Homo sapiens: one gene and its partner. The protein of the gene in region 2 purifies or fractionates together with the protein of the main gene of each other region. This does not show direct contact. Each region holds a gene or a part of one and is shown on either strand. Other genes may lie near its edges.

What was found.
Region 1: the proteins of PXYLP1 (region 2) and GNPTAB purify together in Homo sapiens (affinity purification with mass spectrometry; 2 studies listed by BioGRID and IntAct, with this or other methods). This does not show direct contact.

The regions. Positions count from the first base shown.
Region 1 is NC_000012.12:101,820,927-101,824,745, forward strand, and holds part of GNPTAB (N-acetylglucosamine-1-phosphotransferase subunits alpha/beta precursor), read right to left. Parts: intron 1-3,819. UniProt on the Homo sapiens protein: Catalyzes the formation of mannose 6-phosphate (M6P) markers on high mannose type oligosaccharides in the Golgi apparatus.
Region 2 is NC_000003.12:141,287,287-141,291,105, reverse strand, and holds part of PXYLP1 (2-phosphoxylose phosphatase 1), read right to left. Parts: intron 3,793-3,819; coding exon 3,653-3,792; intron 1-3,652. UniProt on the Homo sapiens protein: Responsible for the 2-O-dephosphorylation of xylose in the glycosaminoglycan-protein linkage region of proteoglycans thereby regulating the amount of mature glycosaminoglycan (GAG) chains.

The DNA of each region.
Region 1 (3,819 bases), on a different chromosome or scaffold from region 2:
CAAGCCTGTAATCCCAGCTACTCAGGAGGCCGAGGCAGGAGAATCACTTGAACCCAGGAGGTGGAGGTTGCAGTGAGCCAAGATAGTGGCCACTGCACTCCAGACTGGGCGGCAGAGTGAGACTCCGTCTCAAAAAAAAAAAAAAAAAAAAAAGCAAGCATCTCCTGATCCCCTGCCACCAGACCAAACTGATTCTCACTGCTGGTCTCTTCCACAACGATGCTCTATTTCTTTACAGCATTTCTCACAATAGTAATGAAGTGGCAGTTAATGTCTGACTGCACCACCAGAATATAAGCTCCTTGTCAGCAGGAGCCAAGTCTGCTTTGTTCACTGCTGGATCCCCAGGGGCCTGGTACAGTGCTCAAAAATTAAGTAGTCACTGAATGAATGAGGCAGGCACTCTGCCAGGGCACAGGGATTTGAAGATAAGGAAGATTCCATCTTTGTGACCAGGATGCTGAGCACAGAAATAGCAAATAAGTTTCATCTCCCAGGCAAGCTCAATTAACTGGTAACCAAATTGAGAAGCTGTGCATGTAAAAATAAGTTTCTTCTGAGGCAGCAAAATACAAGATACCACATTCCAAAGTGAAGTGTTGGGCCAAGATGCAAAGTTTCTTAAGGAACAGTTGCAGACTCATCCAAATCATGGTAGAAAGGTCCAGGAGGTGGCGATCAGAGGAGGTTTTCAGAGGTAGCTGGCATTCTGTGACGCCTGCTCCACCTCATTCAAGGGGGAGCAGTGGAAGTCTGTTTCCCACTTCCTTACGCCCAAGAAAAGGGCTCAACAAAATTACCAAGAGAACTCACTATGGGTCCATGAAGTTGGGTGGGTACCATGTCTGTGTAACACCTGAAAAATATAAAGTGCTGGCTGGCTAATTGCTCTGAGGACAAGAGAGAAGTTGTCACTCCGCTGGAATCAGCCCACCCTCCCCTAGTCTGAGCAAAGGACGTGGGCCACATACAACAAAGAACCAGCAGAAGGTCACCCTGGGCCTACTCACTGGGCAAAAGAGGCTGAAATGAGAAGCTCCCATTATTATCAGATTCTTAGGATCTATGGAAGGAATAAGCAACCAAACGGAATGAAGAGGCATTTGGTCTCATCAGGGGAAAAGCAGGTGACCACTCCTGAGCACGGCGGTGGCTGTGGTCTCTGAAGGATGCCCCTTGAAAACACTCAAGAAAGAATAAGCTCTGGCCGGGCGCGGTGGCTCACGCCTGTAATCCCAGCACTTTGGGAGGCCGAGGCGGGCGGATCACGAGGTCAGGAGATCAAGACCATCCTGGCTAACACGGTGAAACCCCGTCTCTACTAAAAATACAAAAAATTAGCCGGGTGAGGTGGCGGGAGCCTGTAGTCCCAGCTACTCGGGAGGCTGAGGCAGGAGAATGGCGTGAACCCCGGGGGGCGGAGCCTGCAGTGAGCCGAGATCGCGCCACTGCACTCCAACCTGGGCGACAGCGAGACTCCGTCTCAAAAAAAAGAAAGAAAGAAAGAAAGAATAAGCTCTAACACCTGCACAACATCCCAGAGAGCTCCTGCACTCATTCAGGAAGAAGTTTCCTGTCCTCATTTCCTTCCTTTCTTTCATGTGCTCCAACACAGGAGGGATCAGAAACAGGTTACAGAGCAGAAAGAGAATCATCAAGTGATGAAAAGTGAGAAGATGCCCACTGTGGCCACCCTCCCTTCCTCCACTGCAGGCTTTCTCCCTGCAGCAGGCCTGTACTGGGAGAAGGAACTTAGGCTTTAAGTTCTGTTATGCTTTAGGACTGAAGACTCTAATTGCTGAATTCACATTCTGTTCTGTAGTGTGAAGTGACCACAGAAATATCAGGCCCACCTGAATTTTCATCCAGGGGCAGGGGTGCAAGACAATACAAAGAGCCAGTGGAAGATAAAGAATAAAGGGATTGGCTACACATCCCACAAGGTGTGCTTATTCAACATGACAATTACAGCCAGCTGCCTACCCAGCATCACTTATCTATTCTTCTTCCATAAAGGAACCTACCCCTACATAACAAATATTTGGGAGACCAGTCCCGAGATTCAGAGGTAGGTCAGATTGGTCTAAAAGTAACCCCTTTCTCCTTTCAAGAGATTTGCTTAAGAATGGCTCTATAAGCATAACTGGGACCAATGCCAGGAAAGGACTGCTGAGGTCCTGGGTCAAGTTCTTCCTCCATCTTCTGACAGTCCTCTCAAAAGTTGGAGGAACACCAAACTGTTAGAGAAATTATTCTGAAACTATATCTGGGCTTAGGAACGGAAAAGTGCCATGATGAACAAGGCCGAGTCTTAGGAAGGCAGGGTGCCAGGTATGCGGTGTAGGCAGCTGGTAGGAAGTGTGGATCTAGAGCTTGTTGGAGAGGCAGCAGGCATGGTTAAGGCCAGGCGCAGTGGCTTATGTCTGTAATCCCAGCACTTTGGGAGGCCAAGACAGGCAAATTGCTTGAGGTCAGGAGTTTGAGACCAGCCTGGCTAACATGGTGTAACCCCGTCTCTACTAAAAATACAAAAATTAGCCAGGTGTTGTGGTGGGTGCCTGTAATCCCAGCTACTCGGGAGGCTGACACAAGAGAATCGCTTGAACCCAGGAGGTGCAGGTTGCAGTGAGCTGAGATTGCGCCACTGCACTCCAGCCTGGGAGACAGAACGAGACTCCGTCTCAAAAAAAAAAAAAAAAAAAAAGTCAGGTTAAGTTTTTCTCTCACAATGTGATAACATTCATTAACAAAATGAACAATATTTAGATCTCAAGAGAAAGACCAAATGCAATTATCAAATCACCATATAAGTTAAAGGTATATATTTGATCATCACTGAAAGATTTATAACGGCACACTTGAGCTGTGTTTAACAAAGCTCCATATTAATATATCCATGCAAGAAAACAAGTTTCCCAGATAGATTAATTAACCAGATATTAAAAATAGAAACAATCTACTTTACAACTTCTAGAGCAAGGTAAAGGGCTAACAGCTATCACAGACACAATGTCACCAGTAAAGCCAGGGAGAGGAAATGGGTTTTGACTGAAGCCAGTGTCTTCAAGACATCTGTTGTTCCGGCCCTTCTTTGGGTAACAGCCTTGTGATTATCTTCTGAAGCTCTCCTCTCAGTTCACGTGGTTCAGTTGAGACTGACAGCCCCACCCACTCCCCTATTTCTGGAGACGATCCCAGTGGTTAACAAGGGTATAACAAGGGCACTCATTCCTCTGGCTAGGCAGGCAGCCCTGGGTCTAGTTGGCACTAATGAGAAAGAAAAGCTATCTTTCTGCTGCAGTTACTGAACTGGTAGAACAGAAGGTGGGGTTGCCAGCAGCAATCCTTGTTCTCATATGAGGAGAGCTTGCTGAGAAGTAAACTAAAGAGGGGAAGGCAGAGGTGAGAAACAGGGACAAAAAGAGATTCCTGATGACATCATTTGAGCACCTCGATCCACTCCTGCCAGAAATTTCACCATATATATATATATATATATATATATATTTTCTTTTTTTTTTTTTTTTTTTTGGTTAACCTTTTTGTTTTGTTTTGTTTGAGACAGAGCCTCACTCTGTCGCCCAAGCTGGAGTGCAGTGGCACAATCTTGGCTCACTGCAACATCTGCCTCCAGGGTTCAAGCGATTCTCCTGCCTCAGCCTACCAAGTAGCTGGGACTACAGGCATGCACCACCACGCCCAGTTAATTTTTGTATTTTTTGTAGAGACAGGGTTTCACCATGTTGGCCAGGCTGCTTTCGAACTCGCCTTGGCCTCCCAAAGTGCTGGGATTACACACATGAGCCACCACACCTGGCC
Region 2 (3,819 bases):
GCTCAGCAAAACCCACAAAGGATGTCTGGGTCCTACTGTGCATGAAGAGTATTGAGAACAGAACTCCCCCAGGAACCCAGGAACTAAAGGCTGGAACAGGATTTAGCACTTCCAAGACGCTTTGCAAAAAAACATGCAAACCGTGAGAGACAAACATTAGATTCCGTGTCTCACCCTAGTTCACTGCGGGGCCTATTTTATTTGGTTAGGCCACATAAAGTTAGAGTGCTTACTGTGTGCCAGGCCTTTCCCATTTAATCCTCACAAAAACCCAATGAAGAAGGTATATTATTATATTTTATATTTTCCTTATTTTATAGATGAAGAAACAAAGGCCCTGAACCATTTACAGTTAAAAAGTGGCAGAGCTAAAACCCAAGACCCCATCTGGTCCTAATTTTATGCTCTTAGACCCTTACATTTTCATGCCGAAATACAAAGTTCTAGCTATTTAGGGCTTCTTATACTTGCCAAACATAGCCTGCATCTTCATGGCTTTGTTCATACCGTTCCCCTTTCTCTCCCTAGGGAAATCCTCCCAGGGCCTGGCTCCAAGCTCCAACACTACCTGCTCTGTAGTGCTTTCCTTCTTCTTCTCCCTGGTCAAGTTAATAATTCCTTCCTCTTCCCATATGCTGCTGGACCATGACAACATCAGCTGCATTTATTGGGAGCCTCTCATATGCCGGCACTGCACTAGGCACTCTACACATGCTACCTCATCAAATTCACCACCAGCCACTGGGAAGACAGGCTCCTCCCCATGCTACAGGTCTGTCTGACTCCAAGGCCTGTGTTTACTCTCTAAGGCCCTGCAGTATCTGGCATTACAGGCAGTTGTCTCCACGCACATTGTGTGCTGCAGTTGCAGCCTTCTTTAGGACAGGCAGGAGGGTCCTATTCATCCTGCTACCCTCTCACACTCAGCAGCTGCCAAAGCATCTTCAACAGGGTAGGCACTCATGAGCAATCTTACCTTACATAGTTACTGTAGGGTGCCGTAAGTGCACCAGGGACAAAAGATGATTATAACAGCCATGCATTTTTCATGATATTTAAAATAGAAATAAAAATGACCATTAAAAGAGAATGAGGAAACAGGAGCAGACAGTATTACAAAAATGATTTCTAGAGTAACACTAATTTAGAAACGATGATGATGATAGATGAATTGAGAAGAAAGATCTGAATGAATGATTAGGTGTGTGAGGGCCAACCCCCCAGCCTCTTCTCAGGTAGCAGCTCCTGGATCCAGAGACTGGCGCCCTCACCTCCTGTTCTCTGCACAGTCACCCTGACCTGTTAGCCAGGGCTGATGGATGCTAACCCCTAGGACCTCAAGGATTCTCCCTCTCTCAAGAATTTGGATTTGCAAGTTCATCTGTGTGTGTGGCTGGGACTGTAATTTTGTTGACAGACACAACAAAAAATTAGAGAGAGAGGCAGGGACAAGACAGCTTTTTTATTCCTGGTTCCAGTCTCTAGAGGTCTGGTCACACTCTTGATCTTAGAGTCTGTGAGTCATTCCTGAATTCTTATAATAAATTTCCTTTTTTTGCTTGAGGTGTTTTCTGTTATTTTTAACCAGAGAATCTAAGCAGCAGTTCTCAGCAAGAGTGCTACTGCCTTCAGAGAGGGCTTGGGGGTGGAGTTATCACAATAGTATGGGGAAAGGCATTCCTGGCACCTAGTGGGTAGGGGCTGGGGGGCTGGTCTCCAGAAGGGACACGTGTCTCTGTCCCACACAACTTTTGAATGCAGCATGAGACATTCCATCACGTGCAAAACATATTTGAATACTTTAGACTGTAGAATCTAATTCTGTTTTTGTGTCTAGAACACAAAACCATTTTTGTATAATATTAATGTTCACTGAATTTTCCAGAAATACAATATAAACTAAGGAACATCTATATTTTGTTTTGATCAGAACTTCAGAAAAACCATGTCCTGACATGTGGTATTAAGAGTCAACAATACAGCATCCATCAATCATCTGCATTTGTAGTTGTCAGAGTCACATTTAGGTACAAGCATTTGAAGATTTCATTCTATTTTCTAGTGTAGCTGTTCTTAAGCATTTATACAGAGACACATATAATTAGGTAGTAAATTAGTTTCTTTTCATTTGTTATCGCTGGGGACCCTGGTATAACTTTTAAGTAATTAACTGCATAGAAAGATTACATTCATTCATTCATTCATTCATTGAGACAGGGCCTCACTTTGTCACTCAGGCTGGAGTGCAGTGGCATGATCATGGTTCACTGCAGCCTTGACCTCCCGGGCTCAAGTGGTCCTCCCGCCTCAGCCACCTGAGTAGCTGGGACTACAGGCACATGCCACCACACTTGGCTAATTTTAAAAAATTGTTTGTAGAGATGGGGTTCCACTATGTTGCTCAGACTGCTCTCGAACCCTCAGGCTCAAACGATTATCCTGCCTCAGCCTCCCAAAGTGCTGGGATTACAGGCATGAGGCACCATGCCTGGCTGGTTACATTATATTTAAATTTCACTTCATGATAGTTGAGGGAGATTGCAAAATAGTTAATTGTGTAATCAAAGGGGGTGTTGGATCTGCTAGGATGAAAACCCTCGTTCTAAAGTAATGCATGTGGAACTAATTGCCAAAGGCTTTTGACACAACTCCTTATCCACGGCTAGTCCTCCAGAGGCTTCAGCTTGTTCCACTCTGTCTATCCAATATCATTTCCCCAATAATAATGGCAAAACCTAAGAGGGCCTACTATAGGATGGAGACCTTCCCTCCATCCCTGCTGAAGTCCTAAGATGCTGATGCAAGATGAAGACAGAACATGGCCAATGGGTCTTCCCAATTCACCCATAAAGGCTGGTGACCAGGCAAAGGTCCTCTGAGGTTCCAGATTGAAGAATCAGAAAACTGAAACCTCTTGAAGGACCACCTGTTCCTCTATTCCCAGCAAAGGTGACTCCACAGTTAACTCACCAACCTACCCTGATGGTGAACTGACTGCACATGGTCTGACTAGGGCTGCGGAGGGAAAGCTGTGCTTCTGTGAGAACTCAGCTCAGCCAAACAAACTCCACATGCAGTAGAAATGTGCCATGCATTTTCCTCCCTGAGATCTTGTACATGAAAACCTATTAGAAGTTTTGTTAGAAATATCTGAGAACATGAGATTAGTTAAATAAATGATCAATTGCCCATCCAGAGTGAAAGAATATGGCGCTATCATAAATGATGTAGTGGATAAACAGTTATTCATAGGGAAATATTAACAAAATGTGTTGTTGAGTGGAAAAGTGGGTTATGAAATAGTGTGTTTAGTAAGATGTGTGTGTGTGCATAAGCACAGGAAGAAGGGTTACTCTTAAGGGTCTATTTCTGTGGTGGAATTACGGTTGCTTAAACTTTTTCTTCTTTTTACTTGTCTTTCCTAAATTATTTTCATGAACACGTATTGTTTTTGTAAGAAGGAGAAAGGTTCTATTTAGTTTTGAGAACTCTGATGTTTATTTAGAGGCCCTGGTGACCGAGCTCCTTGCAGAGCCAGTCCTTGCTTACCCCCTCTGAGCTGCACAGCACCCCGCCCAGGAGAACTGCTCGGAAGGTATGCAAGCAGAAGAGCGGGTGGGGGAACCCCTGAGCGCATGGGGGTCACACATACCTGTCTGTGTGAGCTCTCCCATCTCACACAATGGGTGATTTGGGTAAAGAGGCAAGGAGTTCAAGGGGCTTTCGAAAGAGGCTCCGGATCCTTTTGACATGTGACTAATGAAAGCTTCCAGTTTTGGGTGATACGGTTTCCTAGAGAGATGATAGAGAGAGTTAGAG